2 separate regions of the Homo sapiens genome follow, and region 2 is linked to region 1. A link means that fine-mapping ties the variant in region 1 to the expression of a gene that starts in the linked region. Tissue or cell type: putamen. Region 1 holds a variant in brackets; the other region holds the start of a gene. All regions are shown on one strand. Distances are from middle to middle. Region 1 overlaps TEAD3 (TEA domain transcription factor 3). Region 2 holds the start of TULP1 (TUB like protein 1).

Region 1 (5,512 bases):
GATGGCTCATGCCTGTAATCCCAGCACTTTGGGAGGCCGAGGTGGGTGGATCATTTAAGGTCAGGAGCTCAAGACCAACCTGACCAACATGGTGAAAACCCATCTCTACCTAAAAATATATCAGGTCTGGACGCAGTGGCACATGCCTATAATCCCATCACTTTGGGAGGCCGAGGTGGTTGGATCATGAGGTCAGGTGTTTGAGACCAGACTGACCAACATGGTGAAACCCCATCTCTACTAAAAATACAAAAATTAGCCGGGCATGGTGGCACGCACTTGTAATCCCAGCTACTCAGGAGGCTGAAGCAGGAGAATCGCTTCAACCCAGGAGGCAGAGGTTGCAGTGAGCCGAGATCACGTCACTGCACTCCAGCCTAGGCAATAGAGCGAGACTCCTCAAAAAAAAAAAAAAAAAAAAAAAAATTAGCAGGGCATGGCAGCATACTCCTGCAATCCTAGCTACTCAGGAGGCTGAGGCACGAAGATCACTTGAACTCCAGAGGCAGAGGTTGCAGTGAGTGGAGATAGCACCACTGCACTCCAGCCTGGGTGACAGAGCAGACCTTGTCTCAAAAAAAAACAAAACAAAACACACAAAAACAAACAAACAACAACAACAAAAAACACTAAAGCAGGGAAGGTAGGGAATAAAGCCCATTATCCAGAGATGAAAACTAAGGCTCACAAGGTCACGCAGCTGCCAAAGGCATGCTGAGGAGCACAGAGAGGAGGAGCAGAGGAGCAGGGCTGTGTTTCCTCAGCTCTCCCTGTCAGCTCCTCCTCCCCAGTGTCCACATCCCCAGTCAGGGACCTCCACCCCTCACTCTCGCCCCAGCATCAGTGCAACCCTGCTAAGGACCCCTCAGGGGACAAGGAGAGTCCCTGACCCAGAAGGGCACCATTTTATCTTCCCCCAAATCGATAACTAACCAGAACTCTGCCAAGGGGCCTAATGTAGGGCAGGAACTGCCCCAGGAATTACAAAAAGGGAACTGGTGAGGGAGCAGCAGAGAAGGTGCTTGGCCAACAGCCTGGCTCAACCTCACCCGCTCCTCTATCCCACTTCCTGTTCCCGCACCTCCAGGCCCCACAGCAGCCCGTAAACCACCAACACGCCCGCCCCCGCCCTGGCCCATCCTACATGTGGGCCAGGGCTCTGTAAACTGTGAGTGCCCTGAACCTGCCAGGCTATTAATTTGGACCACACCCCACCAGGCCCCCTATCACTCACAACCCCAAGACTCACCCCAAATCCCCTTCAGCCCCAGAACCCACATGTCCAATGTATTCAGGGTCCTGGAAACCTAAGAGCCCATGATGGCTGGATCCTGGGACTTAGCTCTGGGCAGCAGGGAAAGGGGAGGGGTGGAGATGTAGGGGACACCGTCAGAAGCCAGGGAGAGGAAGATGAATTCCAGGTCCTGCTGCTTGAGTCGGGGTGGACTCTCTCTGCAGAGCCACCTGTTTGCTTAGGGAGGCTTGAGGGGATCACTAGTAGAATGAGGTGGGGAGGGCCTGGGAGGTCTGAATGTCAGCCAGTTATTCGGTTATTTTTTTTCTTTTTTAAATTTTTTATTTGTTTTTTATTTTTTAGACGGAGTCTTGCTCTGTCGCCCAGGCTAGAGTGCAATGGCGCGATCTCTGCTCACCGCAACCTCCACCTCCTGGGTTCAAGCGATTCTCCTGCCTCAGACTCCCATGCAGCCTCCCCCCTCAGCATGGTGGCACGCACCTGTAGCTGGGATTACAGGCGCATGCCACCATGCCCAGATAATTTTTTGTATTTTTAGTAAAGACGGGGTTTCACCATGTTGGCCAGGCTGGTCTCAAACTTCTGACCTCATGGTCCGCCAGCCTCGGCCTCCCAAAGTGTTGGGATTACAGGCGTGAGCCACTGCGCCCGGCCCTTGATTATTCTAAACTATTATTCAGTTAGTTATTCAGCTATTCAACTAGTTATTGTAATTATTCTAAACTATTGAGTCTAGACTTAATATTACTACTACTAACAGTACCTGTCATATGCCAGGCACTGTTCTGGGATTTCACACACATTGACTCATTTAATCCTCACAATAACCCTATGGGGCAGATACTATTATTATTCCTAGTTTATAGATGAGGAACCCAAGAAACAGAGAAGTTAAGCAACTTGCCTTAGGGCACACAACAAGTAAGTACTAGGGCTGGGTTCTGAACCCAGGTAAGCTGGCTTCGGTTTTATAACCAGGAAGGTTATAGGGAGGGTGCTGAGAGACCCCACCACCTGAGAGAGAAAGGAGGTTCAGCTGTCACAGCAACTGCCCTAAGTCTGCCCAGGAGGTCCCCCTCAACCCAAGCAACTGGAGCAACTTGAAGACCCCCGCACTGCCGTACAGCCCTTTCTGTGATGCCTCCAGAGCCACCAGGAATCTCTCTCCCATGGCCAGTGGGCGGCCAGAAGGAGCTGTGCCCCTGACCTGTCAGAGGGGCCAGATGCCCTCATTCCCAGCCTGTCCCTCACCCCAGGAAACTGGATCCAGAGCCCCAGGCCCTACTCCTCAACGAGAGGGGAATTCTTGGAATAGAAATGTGAGGGGTAAACAAAATAAATATAAATAAATAAATAAGGAAATGTGGGGGGTGGTGGCTCACGACTATAATCCCAGCACTCTGGGAAGCTCACTTGAGGCCAGGAGTTCAAGACCAGCCTGGACAACATAGTGAAAACCTTGTCTCTATTTTTAAAAATTAAATTTAAATTAAAAAAACAAAAAGAAAAAATTAAGGGGACAGGGGTGTGCTAGCTGGGTGGGGGCA[C/T]CTAGGGACTCCCCTGTTGAAATAGTTGGGATGCAGGGCCTGTCCACAGGTGTCAGTCTGACACTGCCACAGAGCTGTTAGAGGGGAGGGAGAAGAGGGGCTACAATGAGCTAAGGCCCCTCTTAACCCCTTTCCCGAGGCCTCCCTCGAGCAGCAGCGGCCCAGGCAGCCCCAGACTTTTAAAGCAACTTTCCTGCCTCCCCCAAGTCCCTGCCCGCCTCCCCTCAAGCAGGCTGTGGCCCCCCCTTCTTAGGGTGATGTCAGCCCCGCCCCGCCCCCCGCGGGAGCACTGTGGCCAAATATGGCGAACACAGCAGCAGGCTTGGGAGCTGGGACAGACTGGGGGGGCGGGGCAGGCGGCCCCTGGCTGGGACCGCTGGCAGCTGGTGAGGGGGAGGGGAGGGGGGACGGCCCAAAGGACGTGTCAAGGAGAGAATAGGACCACCGTCCCTCCCTTCGGCTGGCTCCTAGACGCATGCGAGACTCACTTTCTAGGAACGCTCCTGGGGCAGAGGCACCAACACAGGGGCAAGTGGCACTCCCCACACACAGCCATGCACAGGAGCACACTGTGCAGAGGGGCTGTGCGAGTGCTCGGGAGGACAACCACGTGAGAATGTGCACCCCCAAGCTGAGGCACACACATGGGCAGTCGTGGGCAGGCAGCTGCCCCCGTCTGGGGGCTGGACCGGGGTCTCAGTGGAAGGGAGTCTGCAGGAGGCGTGAGCACTGGCTGCTCTGTTCTCCTAGAGACCAGCATGTGCCCGCCTTCTTCTCCCTAGATCCTCTAACTGCTGGGACCCAGGCCGGGCTGAGAGAGGAGGCTATGGCTCCCTGGACAGGTGCGGGCTGGGCTGGGGCAAATGTGGGACTCTGGCTTGGTGGAGGGGTGGGACATCTAGAGAAAGCTGACTGCGGGCGAGAGGGCAAGCCCTGGGCTGCTGGCTGATGATGCCCAGGTATCTAGAAACTCTGCCTCGCTGTGCTGTGCCATGAAGAGGGGTAGGAGAGAGAGGAGACCCAAGTGAGGGTCAAGGGGAGGGAGACCAAGGCCGGGGTGGGGCCTGAGACAGACAGGAGGGGCAGGGGAGACAGGCTGGGGGAGAGTCTGGGGCAAAGAGAAGCTGAGGTGAACCCAGAGAGAAAACAGACCAGAGACAGGAGAGTCCCAGTGAGTGACAGACAGAAAGCCCAACCCAGTGGGGGACAGACCAGAGCCCCGCAGAGTGAAGGGAGAGACCCCAGGAGAGATGTGGAGGCAGGGCGGGGGAGTGCTGGACCCTCAGACCCACAGACTGACAGACAGAGCCGGTGGGGGGTGAAGGGAGAAGGGGAGAAGGAGGGCAGGGGAGGGGCACAGACAAGGCAACCAACAAAGACCTAGAAAGAGACACACAGCAGAGAGGGGTAGACCAGAAACTCAGATATGATAGGCATCGAGGGAGGGGCAGACCAGGAGGGGATGGGGAGAAAGAAAAAGACAGGGACAAGGACAGAGACCCAGAGGCCAAGGCAAAACAGAGGGAGGGAGTGACAAGGGAGGCCACTGCCAGGGGCTGGGGCTGGCCACCATCCAGGACACCCCCACTCCCATCTCAGGGGCTCCTACCCTCCACCTCCTCTCAGAACCCCTCCCATCTGCCTCTGCAGAGGAGTCCTGTTGTACCTGTCCTGCAAACCCGCCAGCAGGCTGCAGACCCCCAGGGGACTCAGTCTGCCTTCACCCTCATCCTGACCAGCCACACCCGCTTCCCCTCTCCCAGGGCCCTCAGCCTTTCAGGCTCAGAAGGCCTCTGGGTGGAGGCAGGGATGGGGGCTAGGAGGCTGGGTGAGCAGGCTTTGGGGCCCTGGGGAAGATAAGGGGCACCTTGCTGCCCACCCCCACCCTGGGGCAAGACCTGCTGGAAGAACTGGCTGGACAGCTCCAGGGATCAGGCTGGAGCTGGGGCCGCTGCAGAGGCCCTGGTCCCCCACCCCCACAGACCCTGCAGCCTCCAGACCACCCAGCCCTGTAGCTCCCTTTAGGGGCCCCAGAGCCACTGCCTTGGTAGGAGGCACAGAAAAAGCCAGTCTGGGTGAGTGGGCACCTCCTGTCTTACCCCTTCCCCTGCACCAGCCCTGCTGGGAGGACGAGCTGAGCTGTGACCTTCCTGGGTCTAGCAGCCAGCAGTCCACCCCTGCAGGGACCCCAGCCCCCAAAGCATTCTCACTTGGAGTGAGAACATCACTCAAAATGTGGCAAGATCAGTGAAATCAGCAGTTTCCTCCCAAATCTCTGCCCTCAAACCTGAGCTGGGCTGACCAGCCGGGGGGGTCGAGGATGGGGAGGGCAGCTGAGGAGGGCTAAGGGAGGCTCCCACCCTCTCTGCCTTTTCCTCCCTCCTCCCCTACCCGCCCCACAGCGGGCCAGCTGTTCTCCAGCTGCCAGAAGCTCCCACCCTAGAAGTAGCCATGCTCTGGGGCAGCAGAGCAAGTAGGGATGTATCTGTCTCCCCCACCTCCAGCCCAAGGACCCCGGAGGGACCCTGCCAAGCAGCCACACCCTGCCAGGCTGGGGAGGGCTTCCCTCCTTCCTGGAACAGGGTCTCAATTTTTACAGGAGGAAGCAATTTGCAGAGCCCACTAGGAGGGAGGTGGGGGCCCCTCCACTCTCTCCCCACCCCCCGCCCTGCTTATTAATGTGCTTCCAATTTGGGACTGGAGATTCTCT
Region 2 (5,000 bases), 23 kb after region 1:
GGCTTCCCAGGTCTCCTGGAAATGGAAGATGGGGGTCAGGCAAAGAAGGTGTCTACTGGGGCTGAAGGCTGCCTTCCAACCCTCTTGTCCTGCCTATAGTCCCCAGGGAGGCTGAAAGCTTGACAGGGGCCCACAGCCTGCCTTCTTTTTCTTTTTTTTTTTGAGACAGTCTCACTGTTGCCCAGGCTGGAATGCAGTGGCAGGATCTCGGCTCACTGCAACCTCCACCTCCAGGGTTCAAGTGATTCTTGTGCCTCAGCCGCCCAAGTAGCTGGGATTACAGGCGCGCGCCACCACCCCTGGCTAATTTTTGTATTGACTTCTGCTCATTTTGGTTTTTCTTTCCCTGAGGCCAAAAAAGCTCTGGACAAAGACCAGGAGCTTAACAAGCAGTTCCCGAATGAATGAACACCAGGCCTTCTAACCGAGCCTCTGAATCCTGCCTTTTGTCCCATGTCCTCCAGGAAACCTTCTCTGGTCACCACTACAGAGTGTGCTATCTCTGCTTCAGAGGCCCAAGGTCCTAGCTCTAGGCCAGGCTGCTGGTCCCTAACAGGTAATGTGCCCAGGCCAGGACACCATCACAGCATTGATTCATTGATTTCTTTTTACTGTAATCACTTTGATACTTTTATAAAAATGATAACAATTTCCACTGAGTTAAAACAAAAACTAAACAAAAATCACAAAGAAAACTAGAATCCTCTGTCCTCCTCTGCCTCACAGAGCTCAAGGGGCAGGGGCAGTGGGGCCAGGGGTGGAGGCATATATTGGTCTATGTCCTTAAGGACCATCGTGGGGAGAAATTATCAGAGGAAAAACCCTCCGGTCACAGCACTGGGTTCATTTTGAGGCCTCAATCGCTGTGTCTCAGTGAGACGCCAAGCCCTCCAAGGACAGGGCTGTTCTGCTTCCCTGTGAGCTCTCTCAGCACCCTCAGCACCCACCCCTTGGGCCCTGGGCCTTGGCCCTCCTCTCCTTCAGGTCTGCGGAGCTCTTCTCTCTCAGGGGCTTCTTGGGAGGCAGAAGGATTTTCTCTTTCTTTTCCTCTGCCTCCTCTTCCTCGTCCTCCTCGTCCTCCTCTTCCTCCTCCTCCTCTGCAGGTAGAAACTCTTCATAATGGGGGTTTGAGCCGGGCCCTCCTTATCTGGGGAGCCCAGTTCCTCCAGACTGCTGGGAAGTGGTGCATGGGCACCAGAAGGGGAGCCTGCCCTTCTGAAACAAGAACCGGAGACCTGGCACCTTCCCAGAAGAATGAGGGTGACTGGCAGCCTTCAGGGTCTGCAAATCAGGGGAGTGGCTGGGGTTGGAGGAATCCTGTCCTGGGGAAATGCCCTCCCTCTCTCCTCCTGAGACCCTCCTCTCCTTACACGCTCGCCTTGCCTCCTTTCCCCATCTCCCTGCATCCACTGTGCTTCTCCCTGACCTTGTCTGTTTCTGACCTTGAGTCAGACCCATCTGGGCTACTTCTGGCTCCTAACTGCTGGTTAAGGCAAAAACCCTTAACGGCTCTATGACTCAGTTTCTCCATCTGTACAATGGTGGAGGGGGGGAACAAAGCACCCTCTCATAGTTGGTGCTTAGCACAATACCTGGCTCAAAGATAAGGCCAGAAAAGTGGGGGCTATTTGACTACAGTTGTTTTCTGCCTCTCTGGGCCGTTCCCGTCCAGCCAGCCCCTTCTCTCCTTAGCTCCACCGCCCCCTCACCCGCGTCCCTGGGGCCCTCTCTCACCGTCCTCCGCGTCTGGGGCACGGGCTACCAGAAAGGTTTCCCGGGGGTCGCGCTTCTTGGCCTCGGGGTCCCTGAGGAACCTGGCGTAGACCGTCTGCGGCGCCCGGGCCTGGGCTGGGTCTGGGGAAGGCTCCTCCCGCGGCCTCCCCGTCCGCCCAGCTGAGCCGAGATGCGGGGTTCAGACAGGGTCCCATCCGCGGGTCCGCGAGGCAGCGCCTCTACCCGCTACCCCCAAGCCTGGGCGCACCCCCTCGGGCTCCTCACCCTAGGGATCTCCCCTGGGCTTGGGTTTCCACTTTCAACACTTCTCCCCGGCTTCCATTCAGCTTCCCACCCCCTTCTACCCCAACGCCACCCCCTTCTACACCAACCCCAACCCCAACCCCAACCCCAATCCCTCCCCTCTCATCACTCCCCGCCCCCTCCTCCCCCACCCCGTTCCAGGGCTCGGCGACACCCGCGCCGGCCCTCAAGCCCCTCCCTTCCGCAGCCCACACCCTGGGGGTCCACCCGGGCTCTGCACCCCGCCCACCTCCGGGCTTCCGGGGCTTGGATCCCGTGGGGCAGGGGGATTCGGGGGCCTCCGTCCTCTTCTTCCTTAGCCTCTGTGCCGGGGCGGGTCGCTGCGGAACGGGGGTCAAGAGGAGGTCGAGGAAGGAAAGGGGGGCGCTGAGGCCCGCCCATCCCCCTCTAATCCCTTGAGCCGCCAGAAATAACCGCAGATTATCCGGGGGGAACTGCAGCCCCCTTCTTGGAGTGAGGCAGGATGACCCCTTCCATGCATCGTGGCCATATCCAATGCTCCAAAGTCCCTATTCCTTCCCTGGAAACCCCAAGTCCCCAAACAGCCCTTTCTCCCCCCAGATCTCCAGACATGCAACCCCCAGACCCTGCTAAGGGGGACCTGTCCCACCCCTAGACCCCCTACCCTGCGTGGGTTTACGCACAGCGGGGACATCTTTCTGCTTCCTTTCCAAGTGGGGTGGCATACCTGTTTGGGGCGCCGCGGGGCCTCCGGGCTCAGGCTTTCTTCTTCATGCCCACTGAGGGTAGCAAAGGGATCAGCCTGTCTCCCTTCCCCTTCCCTCCCCATCCCACCCACTCCCCATCCCTCCATCTAGGCCCCCCAGGGTTCAGGTGCCACGAACTGGGGGCCTTCCAGACCTGTCAGAGGCCCACACCTCTCGGAGGGTTTCATCCCGCAGAGGCATGGTGCCTTTGCCTATCGCACCCCTTTCTCTGCAGGTCTAGGAGCCTCCCTCCCGACTCCTGCTAATCTCGGCTCAACTTCACCCCCCTTCCCCCTGCTCAAGGAGTGGAGGCCTGGCCGCGCTGTGGGAGGTGCTACAGCCCACGACCCTCCCCTGCTAGGCCCAGGCCACTGGGGGAAGAATCTCAACTCCAGTTCTTCTCAGATCCCCAGCAGCCTGCAGGATGGCCACCAGCTCCACCTGCCCCGAGAAGCCCCCAGAAGCTTGGGGTGAGAGGGGCCGATTAGTCATTTGTCAATGGGATGTGGAAGAAAACATTAGACTGGATCCTGTATTTATCTTTATTTCTCACAAAAAATAAGAACTAGAGCCAGGTGCGGTGGTTTACACCTGTAATCCCAGCACTTTGGGAGGCTGAGACAGGTGGATCATTTGAGGTCAGGAGTTCGAGGCCAGCCTGGCCGGCACAGTGAAACCCAGTCTCTACTAAAAATTCAAAAATTAGCCGGGTGCGGTGGCTCACCCCTGTAATCCCAGCACTTTGGGAGGCCGAGGCAGACGGATCACAAGGTCAGGAGATCGAGACTATCCTGGCTAACATGGTGAAACCTCATCTCTACTAAAAATGCAAAAATTAGCCGGGCATGGCGGCAGGCACCTGTAGTCCCAGCTACTCAGGAGGCTGAGGCAGGAGAATGGCGTGTACCTGGGAGGCGGAGCTTGCAGTGAGCGGAAATCATGCCACTGCACTCCTGCCTGGGCAACAGAGTGAGACTCCGTCTCAAAATAAATAAATAAATAAATAAAAAATTAGCTGGGCATCGTGGTGGGCACCTGTAGTCCCAGCTACTGGGGAGGCTGAGGCAGGAGAAGCACTTGAACCTGGGAGGCGGAGGTTGCAGTGAGCCGAGATCTTGCCAATGCACTCCAGCCTGGCCAAAAAGAGCAAGACTACATCTCAGAAAAAAAAAAAAAAAAAAGAATATGTCTGTATTGGAGGTATACCCTTAACTCTTTTTCTTTTTTCACTGATAGGGGACATGCTTTTGTGGTATTGTTTTGTTTTGTTTTAGACAGAATTTTGCTCTTGTCACCCAGGCTGGAGTGCAGTGGCACGATCCTGGCTAATTACAGTAAATCCATATCAAATGGAACTTTCTAAAATACTATTTCTTCGGTTGCCACCTTTGTTCAAAAACATTCATTGGCTCCCTACTGCCTAAGGATTAAGTTTAAATGTGTTGGGTTGACATTCAAGGCTCTCCCTGATCTGGCCCCAGTCTGCCTTTCTAACCACAGGGTTATCCCAAGCCATACTCTTCATCCAGCCACAGAGGTTTCCTTACTGCCTTTACAGTTCTGTCCTCCATGCCTTTGCTCAGGCTGTTCCCTCCCGGAACGCCCTCCCTATTCCATGAAACCTATCCAACTCTAAACAGTCCTCAAGTCGCCACTTCGGAGAGGCCTCAGTCCTCAGTTGGCTCTGACCATATAATAATAATAGCATTTATTGTCCACCTACTGTGGCTTGCTCCCATTCTGACTCCACCCTCACAATAATATTTATGAGACAGACATTAACACCCTGATATTAGGGCAAGGAGCAGTGGCTTATGCCTGTAATCCCAGCACTTTGGGAGGATCACTTGAGCCCAGGAGCTCAAGACCAGGCTGAGCAACATAGTGAGACTTTGTCTCTACAAAAAATTTAAAAATTAGCTGAGCAATGTGGTACATGCCTGAGGTCCCAGCTACTTGGGAGGCTGAGGCAGGAGGATGACTTGAGCCCAGGAGGCAGAGGCTGCAGTGAGCTAAGACAGTGCCACAGCACTCCAGCCTGGGCAATGGAGTGAGACCCTGTCTCAAAAACAAAACCAAACAACCAAACAACCAAACGAAAACACCCTGATATTAAAGGTGAGGAAACTGACAGCTGAGTGTCAGTCAACAAGTATTTCCTGAGCACCTATTGTGTGCCAAGCGCTATGCTAAATAATGGTCATACAGAGATGAACAACATGATGTGGTCCCCGCCCTCGTGCAGCTTACATGCTT

What was found. PIP is the estimated chance that this variant, and not a neighbour inherited with it, causes the effect. A credible set is the group of variants that fine-mapping cannot tell apart.
Region 2: TULP1 starts here. The variant in region 1 is the best candidate, but not a certain one, in a credible set for the expression of TULP1 in putamen (GTEx, PIP 0.63).

The regions. Positions count from the first base shown.
Region 1 is chr6:35,487,148-35,492,659 of GRCh38, forward strand. All of the region lies in intron 1 of TEAD3 (TEA domain transcription factor 3), which reads right to left. Among named protein-coding and RNA genes, the nearest start is that of TEAD3, 7.2 kb to the right of the region's middle. RefSeq lists enhancers at 1,145-1,720, 1,721-2,296, 2,205-5,512, 2,297-2,872, 2,873-3,448 and 2 more. The variant C/T (reference allele first, on the strand shown) is at 2,803.
Region 2 is chr6:35,509,914-35,514,913 of GRCh38, forward strand. It overlaps TULP1 (TUB like protein 1), which reads right to left and starts at 2,983. Exons shown (of 15, transcript NM_003322.6): 1 at 2,899-2,983; 2 at 2,726-2,777; 3 at 2,267-2,357; 4 at 1,735-1,893; 5 at 948-1,097; 6 at 1-15. The coding sequence starts at 2,945.